4 linked regions of the Homo sapiens genome follow. The protein of the gene in region 1 purifies or fractionates together with the protein of each later gene. This does not show direct contact. Each region holds a gene or a part of one and is shown in the gene's direction. Other genes may lie near its edges.

Evidence for each region. The genes of interacting proteins can lie anywhere in the genome.
Region 2: the proteins of PTPRS (region 1) and UGGT1 purify together in Homo sapiens (affinity purification with mass spectrometry, with the first as the bait; one large-scale study listed by BioGRID). This does not show direct contact.
Region 3: the proteins of PTPRS (region 1) and LRRTM4 purify together in Homo sapiens (affinity purification with western blotting, with the first as the bait; one study listed by BioGRID). This does not show direct contact.
Region 4: the proteins of PTPRS (region 1) and SCN2B purify together in Homo sapiens (co-immunoprecipitation; one large-scale study listed by IntAct). This does not show direct contact.

Annotation. Positions count from the first base shown.
Region 1 is NC_000019.10:5,218,813-5,222,312, reverse strand, and holds part of PTPRS (receptor-type tyrosine-protein phosphatase S isoform 1 precursor), read left to right. Parts: intron 1-92; coding exon 93-190; intron 191-1,059; coding exon 1,060-1,313; intron 1,314-1,959; coding exon 1,960-2,053; intron 2,054-2,158; coding exon 2,159-2,374; intron 2,375-2,845; coding exon 2,846-3,003; intron 3,004-3,500. UniProt on the Homo sapiens protein: Cell surface receptor that binds to glycosaminoglycans, including chondroitin sulfate proteoglycans and heparan sulfate proteoglycan.
Region 2 is NC_000002.12:128,192,200-128,196,177, forward strand, and holds the end of UGGT1 (UDP-glucose:glycoprotein glucosyltransferase 1 precursor), read left to right. Parts: 3' UTR 1-3,478; downstream 3,479-3,978. UniProt on the Homo sapiens protein: Recognizes glycoproteins with minor folding defects. Reglucosylates single N-glycans near the misfolded part of the protein, thus providing quality control for protein folding in the endoplasmic reticulum.
Region 3 is NC_000002.12:76,749,377-76,752,876, reverse strand, and holds part of LRRTM4 (leucine-rich repeat transmembrane neuronal protein 4 isoform a precursor), read left to right. Parts: intron 1-3,500. UniProt on the Homo sapiens protein: May play a role in the development and maintenance of the vertebrate nervous system. Exhibits strong synaptogenic activity, restricted to excitatory presynaptic differentiation.
Region 4 is NC_000011.10:118,173,840-118,177,846, reverse strand, and holds the start of SCN2B (sodium channel regulatory subunit beta-2 precursor), read left to right. Parts: upstream 1-1,207; 5' UTR 1,208-1,415; coding exon 1,416-1,485; intron 1,486-4,007. UniProt on the Homo sapiens protein: Regulatory subunit of multiple voltage-gated sodium (Nav) channels directly mediating the depolarization of excitable membranes.

The DNA of each region.
Region 1 (3,500 bases):
CGCCCCACCCCACCCCGCTTCACGCCACCCAGTGCCAGGCACTCATGGGGCCTCTCTTCTGCTCTCTCCCTGCTCGGCCGCCTCCCCGGCAGTCTCGCCCAAGAACTTCAAGGTGAAAATGATCATGAAGACATCAGTTCTGCTCAGCTGGGAGTTCCCTGACAACTACAACTCACCCACACCCTACAAGGTGCGACTGCCCAGCCAGCAGGCAGGCAGGCAGGCAGGGTCAGGGGTTGTAGTTCAGCAGGGCTTAAGGCTCAGTTTGGAGTTGGTGTGAAGTGAGGGATCAGGGCTCAGTCAGAGATGGGTCTCAGCTAGGATTGAGGCTTAGTCAATACTGGGAATCAGACTTGGGGCCCAGCCTAGGATTGGAGATCAGCTGGAACTGAGGTTCAGTCAATATTGGGGATCAATGTTGGGCTCAGCCTTGGATTGTGGCTTAGCTGGGATTGAGGTTCAGTCTGGGATTAAGATTTAGTCCATATTGGAAATCAGAGTTGGGGCTCAGCCTTAGATCATGGCTTAGCTGGGACTGAGGCATAATCAGGATTGGGACTCAGAGTTGGTACTTAGCCTGAGGTCAGAGTTTAGTCTGGAGTTGGTGCCAAGTCTGGGATCGGGGGTCAGCCTGGGATTGAGGTTCAGTCTGAGATCAGGAATCAGTCTAGGATCAGGTCTCAGAGGTGGGTTTCCACCTAGGGTCAGCGCTCAGCTGGAATTCAGGATCAGTCTGGGTTCAGGGTTCAGTGGGATTGGGGCTCAGTCGGGACTGGGAATTCAGCATGGGATCAGGGCTCAGTCAAAGTGGGCTTCTACCTAGGATCAGGACTCAGCTGGAATTTAGGCACAGTCTGGGGTCAGGGTTCAGTGAGGTTGGGGCTCAGTCAGAGTTGGGGACTCAGCCTGGGATCAGGGATCAGTCAGTGTTAGATTTCTGCCTAGGGCAGGATTCAGTGGGATCAGGGCTCAGTCAGGGTGGGGGACTCATCCTGGAGCTGGGGCTCAGTCCATGGGCATGAGCCCACCAGGCCCTGCTGAGCTAGCCCTGGTCCGCAGATCCAGTACAATGGGCTCACACTGGATGTGGATGGCCGTACCACCAAGAAGCTCATCACGCACCTCAAGCCCCACACCTTCTACAACTTTGTGCTGACCAATCGCGGCAGCAGCCTGGGCGGCCTCCAGCAGACGGTCACCGCCTGGACTGCCTTCAACCTGCTCAACGGCAAGCCCAGCGTCGCCCCCAAGCCTGATGCTGACGGCTTCATCATGGTGTATCTTCCTGACGGCCAGAGCCCCGTGCCTGTCCAGTATGCTCACCCCCATGCTCCGGGTTCCTTGTCACCCCCATCAGCCTACTATATGGCTGGGGCAAGCCACGTGCCCTCTCTGTGCCTCAATTTCCTTGCCTATGAAACACAGACCCTATCAGCCCTAGTTCATGGGGTCATCCAAGATTCAATGCTTCTCATGGGTCATTGTCACTAAATGTGTCCTGTGTCTGCTCTTCTAGCATTTCCTGATACCCCATATGCCTGACCCTCCACTGGGTATTACTAGGGCCCCTGAAAGGATTTGGTTCTGGGCTTCCCAACTAGTGGGGAGGCAAAGCTGAGAGTCCCCAGTGGGGAGAGGAGCACTCTGCCTCAGAGGCAGAGAAGATTTAAGGGCTACAAGGTTATGTGGGCATTGAAGCTGGAGCTTTGAAGGATGTATAGGAGTTTAACAATGAGCATTACATGAAGTAAGCCTTCTACGCAGAAAGTACAGCATCATCCAAGGCCTGGAGGCCTGAGTCAGCAACTGTGGCGTTTGTGGATGGGGCATAGGGGAATAGGCTCATTGTATGAACAGAAGGGAAGACTCAGAGAAACGGCTTCCCCCGTTTGCCCCCATGAAGCATCCCTTGGTCATCCCTATCGACAGCCCCTCTGACTCTTTCCCATCTCCCTACAGGAGCTATTTCATTGTGATGGTGCCACTGCGCAAGTCTCGTGGAGGCCAATTCCTGACCCCGCTGGGTAGCCCAGAGGACATGGATCTGGAAGAGGTGAGGGCCTGGGGCCCAACCCGCAGGGCCCAGATGCATTCCAGTTTTCACGTGCTCTGTTGCTCCCAGCTGAGCTCTGAGCCACCCATGACTCTGTTCCCGCAGCTCATCCAGGACATCTCACGGCTACAGAGGCGCAGCCTGCGGCACTCGCGTCAGCTGGAGGTGCCCCGGCCCTATATTGCAGCTCGCTTCTCTGTGCTGCCACCCACGTTCCATCCCGGCGACCAGAAGCAGTATGGCGGCTTCGATAACCGGGGCCTGGAGCCCGGCCACCGCTATGTCCTCTTCGTGCTTGCCGTGCTTCAGAAGAGCGAGCCTGTAAGTCCTGAATGGTGTCCGCCCACATCCAGACACACCTCTGAATGAGGCAGACCCCATTCCCCAGGGCCCTGACCTCTGTGGTCAGTCACAGGCAGCTCCCTGTGGTCAGAGCTGGGCAGAGGGGAAGACTTGGGAGCGGAGGGATCCTGAAACGAAGGTTTCTTAGAGGAAGAGACCTTGGAGCTGGGGCGTTGAGGGGTGAGTAGGAGTTCAACAAAGAAAAAGCATCCCAGGATTTGCATGTGCAAAGGTCTGGAGGTACAGAAAGGAGAGTGGCTGGAGCAGAGAAGGGAATGGGGAGAGCAAAGATTGGCAGGGACCAGGTCACATAGGCCACCAGGGTCAAGGTTCTAGGAATATAGGAGGATCTAGAGCGGGGGAGAAACGTAGGTTCATGTTTGAGAAAGACCCATCTGGCCACTACAAGGAGGGTGGACACTGATGGAGACCCCCCTCCTTTCCCTGCAGACCTTTGCAGCCAGTCCCTTCTCAGACCCCTTCCAGCTGGATAACCCGGACCCCCAGCCCATCGTGGATGGCGAGGAGGGGCTTATCTGGGTGATCGGGCCTGTGCTGGCCGTGGTCTTCATAATCTGCATTGTCATTGCTATCCTGCTCTACAAGAAGTAAGCCCCATGTCCTCCCCGACTTGACTTGACAGCAGGGAGGGCTTCCTGGAAAAGGAGGGAGGAGTTGTCTCAGAGAATCATCACTAAAGGTCTCTGTTGTACACATGGGGAAACCGAAGTTCAGAGAGGTTAAGCCACTTGATCAAGGTCACACAGCATGGGAATGGCAGAGCTAGGGCTCAAAGCAGGCCAGTGGCTTGGCTTCTCCTCTTAACCCCTATCTTCAACTCAGCAAGATTTGGGGTAGAGGCTGCCTGTGTCCAGTTCAATGAGGATAGCAATTGTAGTGGCCCCATGGGGCACATCCCAGGGCTGAGATAAGCCTCCTTGTGGTGTCGATAGGCAGGGGGACAAACAGGAAATATGAGCACCATTTTCCAGAGGAGACCAAAGCTCACAGAGGTTAAGGAAGGCACTGAGAGTCACAGAACAAGCCCTTGATGGCCGGCACACCCTCACCTTTCTTCTTTTTTTCCCCCTTCTCACCTGTGTCT
Region 2 (3,978 bases), on another chromosome or scaffold:
TTGACTCTGAATAATGCAAAACCCAGCTTGCTTCCAGAATGGCCTAGGACCCTCCTCCTCCTGCCAGTTTTTTTTTTTTTTTTTGGTTCATGTGGCATAATCATCTTTCAAAATTAACCAAATGCCCCAGAAAATGATGTTACCACTAAAATATTTTCTCCAAGAAGGCATACTGTAACAGAAAAGATAGGTAAGATATTTTTTTCCCAAGAAGTAAGAATTGATTGTGCTGAATGTTCAAACTCTGGAAACTGTTCACAGTATGTTGTTCTTAGCTGTTATTTATATAAAGTGAATTATTTTCTCTCTCAATCATGCCATAGTGGAGACTTTTGTTTGTGAGTAAGTGACAGAGTAATATGAAATAATGTGATATGTCAGAGTGACATGCAGCATCCTGAGCCTGTTTTTATGTTCTGTGTACAGTGGCATTTGATTGAGATCAAAGCCTGTCACAGCCTGCTGCTGGGGGTGTGGGGATATGCCAGAGTCCTGTGTTTGGTTTTAGAAGTTTACTGAATGTTTCCCACATGGAGAATAATGGATGGCATGTTAGTTTCTTTAAGAGTGGTAAAGTTGTACATCTGTCATTGTTGCATTTCGAATTGAACACATAGATGCTTGCCTGTCTGCTTGGGTGAATGCCTCTTGGGAGAGCGAAGATTACGTGCATGATGTATGTTAAGAAACAGTTTCCGGTCAGGCACAGTGGCTTACACCTGTAATCCCAGCACTTTGGGAAGCCGAGGCGGGCGGATTATGAGGTCAAGAGATAGAGACCATCCTGGCCAACACGGTGAAACCCCGTCTCTACTAAAAATACAAAAATTAGCTGGGCATGGTGGCACACACCTGTAGTCCCAGCTACTCGGGAGGCTGAGGCAGGAGAATCACTTGAACCCGGGAGGTGGAGGTTGCAGTGAGCCGAGATCATGCCACTGCACTCCAGCCTGGCAATAGAGCGAGACTCCGTCTCAAAAAAAAAAAAAAAAAAAAAAAAAAAATTAAAACAGTTTCCATAAATGGAGCTTAATTTGCTCTGCTGTCCTTAAGCCCTCGTGGGTTTTTTTTTAAGAGAGTCTCATTCTGTCACCCAGGCTGGAGTGCAGTGGTGCGATCTTGGCTCACTTCAACCTCTGCCTCCCAAGTTCAAACAATTCTCCTGCCTCAGCCTCCTGAGTAGCTGGGATTACAGGCGCCTGCCACCATGCCTGGTTAATTTTTGTATTTTTAGTAGAGATGGGGTTTTACCATGTTGGTTGGCCAGGCTGATCTCAAACTCCTGACCTCAGGTGGTGATCTGCCCACCTCGGCCTCCCAAAGTGCTGGGATTACAGGCGTGAGCCACTATGTCCGGTCAAGCCCTCGTGTTCTGAACCTTGTCAAGGCTCTGCCTGAATGAGTTTTCATCTGATTGTGGGGACCAAGTCCCTGAGTAGAGGGCCAAGAGCTAGGGACAGGGGGAAGAGACTGGCCCAGGTGGTAGGGAGGAAAGAACTCCCAGAGTTTCCTTTAGCCAGGAAACCTGCTCTACTGACCCCGTGACTTGGACAGTCAGACATCACCCTGAGAGTGACAAGTGTAAAATGACTCCCTTCCTCCCCCGCCCTCCGGAAGTATATTTAGATACTTGAAAGCAGTCCTTTTCTAAAATGGCCTTACCTATGTGGCCTGAACGATTAAAAGAAAGAACTCAGAGTTACAAGGGAAAAAGAAAAAGAGTTACAAGGGAATTGTAGTCTTTTTCTGAATAGAATATTAGTACTGTGGTATTGCATTTCATGGGAATGGAAATGTATTGGTAAAGCTACCTGATGGAAGCTTTCTCTTGGTAACAAAAATGGAGGGTGTATTATGTGCAGTTATTTAAATATATGTATTCCATTGTTGCGTGGTTTTTTTCCCCCCTCAAGACAGAGATTTGCTCTTGTTGCCCAGGGTGGAGTACAATGGTGTGACCTTGGCTCACTGCAACCTCTGCCTCCTGGGTTCAGGTGATTCTCCTGCCTCAGCCTTCCGAGTAGCTGGGATTACAGGTGTGCGCCACCACACCCGGCTAATTTTTGCTTTTTTTTTTTTTGAGACAGAATCTCGCTCTGTTGCTCAGGCTGGAGTGGAGTGCAGTGGCACAATCTCAGCTCACTGCAGCCTCTGCCTCCCGGGTTCAAGAGATTCTCCTGACTCAACCTCCTGAGTAGCTGGGATTACAGGTGCCTGCCACTATGCCTAGCTAATTTTTGTATTTTTAGTAGAGACGGGGTTTTGCCATGTTGGCCAGGGTGGTCTCGAACTCCTGACCTCAAGTGATCCACCCGCATCGGCCCCCCAAAGTGCTGGGATTATAGGCGTGAACCACCGCGCCTGTCCCATTGTTGTGTAATTTTAATAATTAGTTTTTTAAGTACTTGATTTTATGGGCACATTTTTGTGGGATGATTGGAGTTAATCAAATAAAGCTTGTCATGTGTGTAGTTTGGTAAGATAACTTCTTTAAATTCATGTTTTCTCTGCCTTGAGGTAGTGAGGGAAAGATCTTAATCAGTATTTTGGTAATTAACTGATTGAATTCAAGCAAATGAGACATCATGAACTTCAGTGGTTATTGATATTTCAGGGTATATACCTGAAATGCCTAGAGGATACAGATTTCTCATTTCATTCTTTGGTCTTTCATTTCTCTATATACAGAAATGAAATGACACTTCTGGGAGGCAGTAGAAGCAGGAAGTCAATGAATTGAGTAGAGGGTCCCATTCCCTCAGGCTGTCATTGATCAGTGACAATTTATAAAAACAAACTGCAAAGTCTGTGGCAAGTGGCTGCCTGCTTCCTAGAAGGAGCCCATGAAGGTTAAACTCTGTGGTCGGTATTTGCAAGCGCCGGGCGTGGTGGCTCACGCCTGTAATCCTAGCACCTTGGGAGGCCAAGGCAGGCGGATCACCCGAGGTCAGGAGTTTGAGGATTTGCAAGCAAAAGGTCCTCTCCTGAGTCTTTCCCAGATACCCAGCAGTGCAGAGGCTAGCTGTGGAAGGTTGCAGTGGGACAGGAATGTATTGTATGCCTTGCCTTACTTGTCACCATTGAGATTTCCAGAGAAATGGGCATAACGTCTCTTAACAACAACAGCAGAAAGCAAAATACATTAACTTAAGGTTGACAACAAAAGATTATCAAGTACCATGTTTTCCAACCAACCAGTTATTCGTGGTAATAATAAAATAAAGGTGGGAAAATGTTATAATTTTTAAGGAAACTGTGTACTTTAAAAATCTTCTTTATGAATATCCAATGTTACTGTAATCCTGCTCCATTAAATGCAGCATTGTTGTCAGGTGCTGCCTCTTGCTTGGGAACAGCATTGGGCTTTTAAATGTCTGCAGAATCTCTGCGTTCGAAGGGAATTGAGAATGAACTTCCTGGTACTGTAATGAAAATAAGGTCTGCTCAACACAGTAAACGTTTCCTCTCTTCTTTAAAACTGCGCAGTCATTTGGCCTTTGTGTTTAGGAAGGGCAGATTGATAGAGCACAAAGTCCAACCCCTTCATCTAGCAGAAGCTGCAAACCCAGACAGAGGAACGAGGGCTTTACCTGAGTCTTGTCTGCTGCTGGGGCTGGCTTCGGGTTGCATCCAGTTCTTTGGATTCTGAGGATCCAAAGCACCCAGGTCTCCTCCAGGTCCTCAACCTCTGGGAGCTGCCCCAGGCAGAACTTGGCAGGCAGGCATAACAGGTGGGGTGGGAGGGGGAACCTCAAGGCAAGAAGGTGTCATGAGACCCCTGGGCCGGCAGAGTTCCTTAGGAGGGTGGCATGGACTTTGCATTTTGCCAGTTCTCTGAGCTCCTACTCCGGGGTGGATATGCATTGAGGATGTAGTCTCTGTGTGATGATGGGGAGGGCGGGGAGGGGCACCTGGTGCCTGTGAAGGCGCAAGAGAGGGCCCTAAGGTGCAGGACCAGGACTAAGCTGCTACAAGGAG
Region 3 (3,500 bases), on another chromosome or scaffold:
GCTGATGGAACACAGAACCATTTGGAGAGGCTCTGAGAACACATTTACAAAAATACCAAATCTGAATTAAGCAAAACTTAAGAATACTTTGTTTTGACTACTGGAAAGGAAACAATGACACACACAGGGACCCAGGTGGTTAATGTACTGTACACTATTACTGTAAAGTACAAGACCTCAGCCTCTGAGCTCCTCAGAAACCACGAATTCAGTTGATTACATAGTGCCCTATAGAATACACTTGAAGAGTAAAAGAGCAAATATTTCAGATACTCTTTCAAAGCTTGCCAATGCACTTGGCTTTTGAATTCTTGCTATTGGTCTGCTGTGCAGGAGGGAACTTTACAATGGTTTTTACTCTCCAAGAGGTTTTAAGCCTGCCTCAATTACAATAGAGAAAATGACATGAGCCCTCTTTTAAGTGCTGTAAAAAAATAAACTGCAATTGTAATAGCAAAACAAATTTTCTCAGTTCAGAAATGGTGTAATATGTAAACGTAAAGCTTTGCAGTTAATGCAGGTCCCTTGACTTTTAAGTCAACTTAATTCAAAGACAAATACCATGATTTCTTAGCTATGAAATTGTTATCTCCCACTATAGTTTAAATTAAAAGGCTTTAAGTAAACATTGCAAATTCAACAATGTTCACTTATGAGCTACTTATTTTCATCTGTAGATTCACCTGGTTGTGCAAAAAGATCCCTAAGGCCCTGATTTCATCTCACATTCACTGTTCTATACATGTTTGTGAATTCAAGTATCTCTTCTTTGTGAAGACCATTGACAGAGCTACAAGACGGTGAACAAAACCACAACCCATGTTTAATGTTCATGTTGATGTCTTTTAGTAATTTGGCTAATTTGTAGAAAATTAGTCATGTATTTAAGTTAAAGTGTAGAATAAATGTTCTATAATCAGTGAATGTTGTTTCCATTTGGAAATAATTTGCTGAATTTTTATGTGATTTTCAAATTATGTTACTTCACCAGTTAACAAGAGAGTACGAATGGGCTGTATTACTCTTAGGAAATCCCTTTTGAAAGCATTCTTCCCACTGAAATGTCAGCACAAAGTGTCTTCTTACATTTCGATGCTTTCTTGGAGTATAAGTGACCCATGGCACCAATCCCACATATCTCCAGGAATCTGACACCCTGAAAAATCCTATGAGGTTTCCTAAAATAGGTCCCGCTGGCAAACATTTTACGTCTGAACCTGTACTGATTGAAAGAGGTCTCATTGAATAAGATATAATAAAAACAAAACAAAACAATAGACTTGGGGTGAGGGAGATTAGAGCTAACTTTTATTTAGTATCTAGTAATTCGGCCATGTCACTTTACAGTCTGTTCCTAGCTCTCTCTGTCAGCACAGAAATTAAGGTCCAATTTTTAAAATATCACTATCAATCACAACTCTGACCTAGTATGTATTTTTTGCAATTCTCCTTTTTACAGAATAGAATGGCATATTCAAGATTTTATCAATAGCTTGTTTGATGAGAAATACTCTTGTTACTATTTTGTAAAAGACTTCCTGAAAATAGTTTTTACCTTCCTTTAGAGGTAAAACAACAACAAATCAGAAACAAAGCATTACATATTGATTTAATTTTCCAACTCATTGTGAAAAACAGTGAATTATACAAGTTAATAGAAGTGAATAGTAAAAACAGAATGGGAATTTATCTAGGCTATTGCCAGTCACTGTAAAATAAATTGTAATCTGAATATGTGCTTTGATCAAGTATTTTTTCAAAAACATGGTCTACCATGATTCCCAATTTTCAAACTTCAAAATGTGTCCCAGTACACACATTGATATGCACATACATAAATTTAAAACAAAACTCTTATGAACAACTTATCTTTATACTCTGATACTTTCTATTCTAGCTAATTTAATTTTTTAAATGCTTATTTGGATTCACAAAATTGATTTCATAACCTACTAATGAGTTGCATTTGCGCATAGAAAACATTGCTTTAATCTAAGACTTAAAAACTGTGAGGAGGTGACTTTCCCCTTAATAAGCAGAGAGGTGTTAAAAACATAATTCTCATAAGAATAGAGAGGGAATTTGTGTCAACGTTGTATTAATCACATTAATAAAAATACCAGCAAGAAAATACTAGAGCTAGTTTTAAGAGCATTTGAGGAACTTGCATAGTAAACAGACGAATGACATCTAAAAATAAGTTTGCTGAATTATATTTAAGACTGGTTAACTCCCTGCAGTATAGGGAGCCATAAGACCTCTGGTGGTTAACTCTAGTAAATTATAAAATCAAAACAACTTAATTTCTGCACTTTTAGATACAGAAGGATTCAAACATAGTCCAGTCGGGAGACTGACAAAATATCAGTTATTTTAAGAAAGAAATTTTAGAAAGAATGCTAACTGGATATAGAGTTATTAACCAAGTTTATGCAAAGGCTAAGATATTGCTGTGGTATCACAGAAACAGCAATGTTAGGAAGTAGCTACCACCCCTACAACTTACAGGGCTGAGGGAACGAAAGGAAGATCATTAAGACTTAAAAGCTTGGAGGAGAAGCTTTGTGGTGATGAACCTCAAATCTCTCTGGTGCTAGTGCTGGTGTCTCTGAGGAGGGCTTGATGAGATCAAATGTTGGATATACTGCAAATGTTGGAAATACTACAAAGAGGCAGCACCTGCTGCTGTGGGAATAAATTGATATAGCCAGAATGAAGACATGCCATTAGGATAAATTCCTGGAGGAGGAAGAAACAAAACAGGAAACCAACAATGGGAGCAATTCCCTCTCCCTGCCAAGTCTTGCCATCTCCCTCCATTGGCAAAGCCTAACAGGAAACCACAAATAAAACAGATATGTGGTTTGCAAAGTCCAAACCTCAGCATCCTAAAAGCAACCACAGAAGGGAACTTAGAGCTGAGAGTCAATAGTTTAAAACCTGCCACAACATCTAACCTTACAGGGCAATGGAGCCTTTGCACTTTTCTCATCTGTGGATTGTTCATCAAGAGTGTCAAATTGTAACTCGCAAGTATGAGAAATATTCTAGCATGAGAACAACAAGTAAGCAAGTATCATTTGCTTTTTCCTAAATTTGGAATATATTTATCTTTATCAGAAATTTATGGCTTAATTAAAAGCTCCACCAAAATTCAAAATTATTATAACTGATATTTTCTGCTTTTTATATTAAATGAATTTCTGCAGACCATTATTCAGGTCTGTTACGCTAACATTAGACACATATTTGGCTTGTTACCTTGAAAACCAATAATAACATTACATATTATGAACATAAAGATGTGCCTTCTCCCATGATTCCAGAGTTCTTTGGTCCAGTATTGATATGTGATAGAGTGTTAGAATTAATCTATAGGAAATTGTGATTATTTTTTAAAACTAAATAAAAGTTACACATGATGATAGTAAAGATTTCAATTGTGTATAGGTATCAAATAAAAAGTTACATATATGTTTATATATATAAATAAAAGTGTA
Region 4 (4,007 bases), on another chromosome or scaffold:
AAAACAACTAGTCTCGTGTCACCTATTCTCCCATCTCTTTTTTTCGTTGAATATATATATATGTATTTTTGAGATGGAGTCTCACTCTGTGGCCCAGGCTGGGATGTAGCGGAGTGATCTCGACTCACTGCAACCTCCGCCTCCCAGGTTCAAGCAATTCTCCTGCCTCAGTCCCCCCAAGTAGCTGGGATTACAGGCACACGCCACCACACCCGGCTAACTTTTGTATTTTTAGTAGAGACAGGGTTTCACCATGTTAGGGAGGCTGGTCTCGAACTCCTGACCTCAGGTGATCTGCCTGCCTCGGCCTCCCAAAGTGCTGGGATTACAGGTGTGAGCCACCCCGCCCGGCCACCCATGTGTGTCTTTAACAGATAGAGATGTTAAAGGACAAAACCACATTTTATCAGACCCAACAAAATTAAGAATGATTCATTAATACAATCTACTATGTAGTTCATATTTAACTTTTCCCAATTGTCTCAAAAACTTTTCTTTCCTGTTGATTTGTTTGAATCAGGTTTATCCAAAGGCCTGTGTTACATTCAATTGTAAGATCTCTTGGGTATTTTTCTATCAGCCTGCTTCAACATGTTCTGTTTTCAGAGGAAACGCTAGAATGAGGAAAGCATTACCCCTTGAAAGTCTCTCCAACTCACTTTCCTGAACCCTTTTCAATAACACAAAAACAAGCATCTCCTTTTTTTTTTTAGGTTTTTTTTTTTTTTTTCCCTCTGGAGGCAGGGCCCAGGCTGGAGTGCGGTGCAGTAGCTGGGACAAGAGGCATGCGACATTATGCCTGGCTAAATTTTGTATTTTTAGTAGAGATGGGTTTTGCCATGTTGCCCAGGCTGGTCTTGAACTCCTGGACTCAAGCAATCCATCCGGCCTCCCAAAGTGCTGGAATTACAGGTGTGAGCCACTGCGTCAGCCTGGGGGTGTTTTTAAATGATAAAAGGTGTTTCCCTTTCCAGAATCTTTAAAATAAATGGATTCCTCTAATAGCTTTCAAAATCCAACAATCATCCCAGTGAAGTCAAAAAGCAGGGTTTGTATTATTTCTTGTTTTAGAGGGTAAAAATTTCTGGGATTTTGTTCTTTTCAAAATGACTTTTTTATGCCCTCCCACCTGCTTTTTGAAATCCACCAACCACAATATTTACCCCATCCCCCTTTTCTCTCCCCCCCATCTCTCTCTCTCTCCTTTACACACTCCCTCTCTCTCTCTTTTTAGCAGCAACATACAAGCCGGCCATATTAGAGAGATGGAAATAAAGCTTCCTTAATGTTGTATATGTCTTTGAAGTACATCCGTGCATTTTTTTTTAGCATCCAACCATTCCTCCCTTGTAGTTCTCGCCCCCTCAAATCACCCTCTCCCGTAGCCCACCCGACTAACATCTCAGTCTCTGAAAATGCACAGAGATGCCTGGCTACCTCGCCCTGCCTTCAGCCTCACGGGGCTCAGTCTCTTTTTCTCTTTGGGTAAGTTAGACACATCTGCATGCTCCCGAGGGTTCAGAAGTGTAGCCGCAATGTGAAGAGGATGGGGGCAGGGGATAGGAAAGAAGACATTGCTAGCGCTTTCCCTCTGTGTCCTTGGGAGGGGAGGTGCTGGGGACTGGAAGGGACGTTGCTGGGGAGTGCAGAACCCTGGGACTACTTAGTCACAGAAATGTTGGGTCAGGGGATCTGAGTGTTGCTGGGGGCTGACAATTGTCAAGGGAGGTGAATCTTCTCTGGATTTCCCCTAAGTGGACCTACGTGGCGGTGGGGCAGAGAGTGGATTGACCTGCAGTCTCTTCAGGGATTATTTTTTGGAGTTGCTGCAAATGCGGGGTCCTGGGACTTAATGCTCCCTTAAGGGGCTTCTTTTCAGAAGCTTGATCCTGGTGGATTTAGGGTATTAGGAGAGTGTGCAGGGGAGCTGGTGGCAGAAAGTTGAGTCTGGGTCTGGCTTCTTGGCACTCGGTCTCACTGATCTGTTGGAACGTGTGTGGGAGTAGGTGGGAAGCGGGCTTGGGGAATGATGTCTGGGTTGGGAGGAGACCTGCTGAGGCACGCACTGATGGAGAAGGCACCTTTGGCTTGGGCCGGATGGAATGGAGGAAGGGCCAGGTGTAGAGATTCAGGAAAAAAATGGAACCCACAGGCTGAGCGAGGTTGCAGCCCTTTAAATCCAGCCTCAGAACTGCCCAGCCCAGTCTTGCAGACTGTCCTGTCAAGTGTTTGTATTTGACCACTCAGAGACTTCCTGGTGGGGAAGTGGGCTAGAAAGTTATTTGCAAGCCTGCTTTGTAGAGTTTCATTCTTGCTCCTAAACTTACTTATTGCTGGAGCAGCAACTGAGAGTCAAGTCCAAGGACTGTTGATGGAACTATTCCCCACCACAAAGGCTCTCTCTCTTTCTGTGGTGTGATGTGCTGGGTTTGGAGTAGGAGTGCTAAACACAGACAGTGCAGAGGCCCTGCCAGCCTGCTTTGCTGAGTTACTTGGCATATTAACATCAGAGCAGGAATGCTATGGAATCTCTGGCAGGACCTGGGTTTCAAGCCACCTTTGTCATTTACGTAATGATCACAGGCAAGTTACTCAACCCCTCTGAGCTTCAGTTCCCTCCCGGGTAAACTAAAGAATGCCTACTGCCTGACGTGTTTGTGATTTGGTGCATGGCAGGAACTCAACGATGGCTAACATAAGAATGCTTTTCGTGAGCCCAGGCACTGTGTATCTTGTTTAGCCCTCACAGCAATCGGAGGTAGATTCTATTATACTCAGGTTACAGGGAGGAAACAGATGACTATGGTAACGGGAGCTGAAATTTGAACTCCCTGTGTCTGACTTCAGCACATTCTCTTAAACGTTGGATTCCACTCCCCAATGTTCAAGAAATGGCACTGCTATATTAACAGTACCTAATTGATCAGAGTCTCAGGACAGGCTGAAAGAAGGGGAGTTGGGTGAGTGGCCTGTTGTAAGGAGGCCCAGCTGGAGGACAGGACCCTTTCCTCAGGAGTTAGGAAGCACTTCGTGCAGGAGAGAAGCCGCCTGGTGAGAGCCATGGCTAAGTAAAGATAGAAAGGGGGCTCAGTGACCAGGACCCAGAGCTCTGGGCTAGGGTGAGGAAGAGGGAGTCTGCGATGAAGAGGTCTGAGTGTTTGGGGTGGGGAGATGGTAGTGGGAGGAAGCTAAAGCTTCTGCAAAGCTGAGTGGGAGAGGATGCAGGAATGGGGACCTTGAACTTGAACTTGATTGGTGCTGTAATGAGGCATGTCCCTGGCACTCCAATGCTGAGGGCCGAGTTGACAGTGGAACTTTGGTGGTGTTGCAGTAGCATCGATCCCCAGGATGGAGGATGCCACAAGTGACGAGGGAGGGGACTCTGTCGGGGCTGGGCTTGTGGGGATGACTATGGAGGTGGCAAAGAGAAAGGGCAGGTGGGCAACCAGCTCTACCCACGGCAGAAGCATATGAGGCTAGTTTTAGCCAGAAACAATTCAAATGACTGGGCTTCCCTCAAGTTTTTCTTGAGACCGTTGACTCCACAGTCACTGGCCTGCTTACCAATGTATGGATTATGTTAGTGGAGGCATAGAAAGTGGAGTCTGGGCTGAGCATGGTGGCTCACGCCTGTATCCCAGTGCTTTGGGAGGCCGAGGTGGGAGGATCGCTTGAGGCCAGGAATTGGAGACCAGCCTGGACAACATAGCAAGACCCTGTCTCTACAAAAAAAAAAAAAAAAAAAAAAAAAAAAAGAAAAGAAAAATAAGCCAGGCATGGTGGCATGTACCTGTAGTCCTAACTGTTCCAGGAGGCTGAAGAAGGAGTATCAAGAGTTCCAGGCTGCAGTGAGCCGTGATCATGCCTCTGCACTCCAGCGTGGGCAGCAGAACCAAACCCTGTCTCTTAAAAAAAGAAAGAAAGAAAGAAAGAAAGAAAGTGAAGTCTAGTCCTCACTCTAGCCCACTGCACATATCTGCTGCTTGTGGTGGTGGGGACCCAGACAT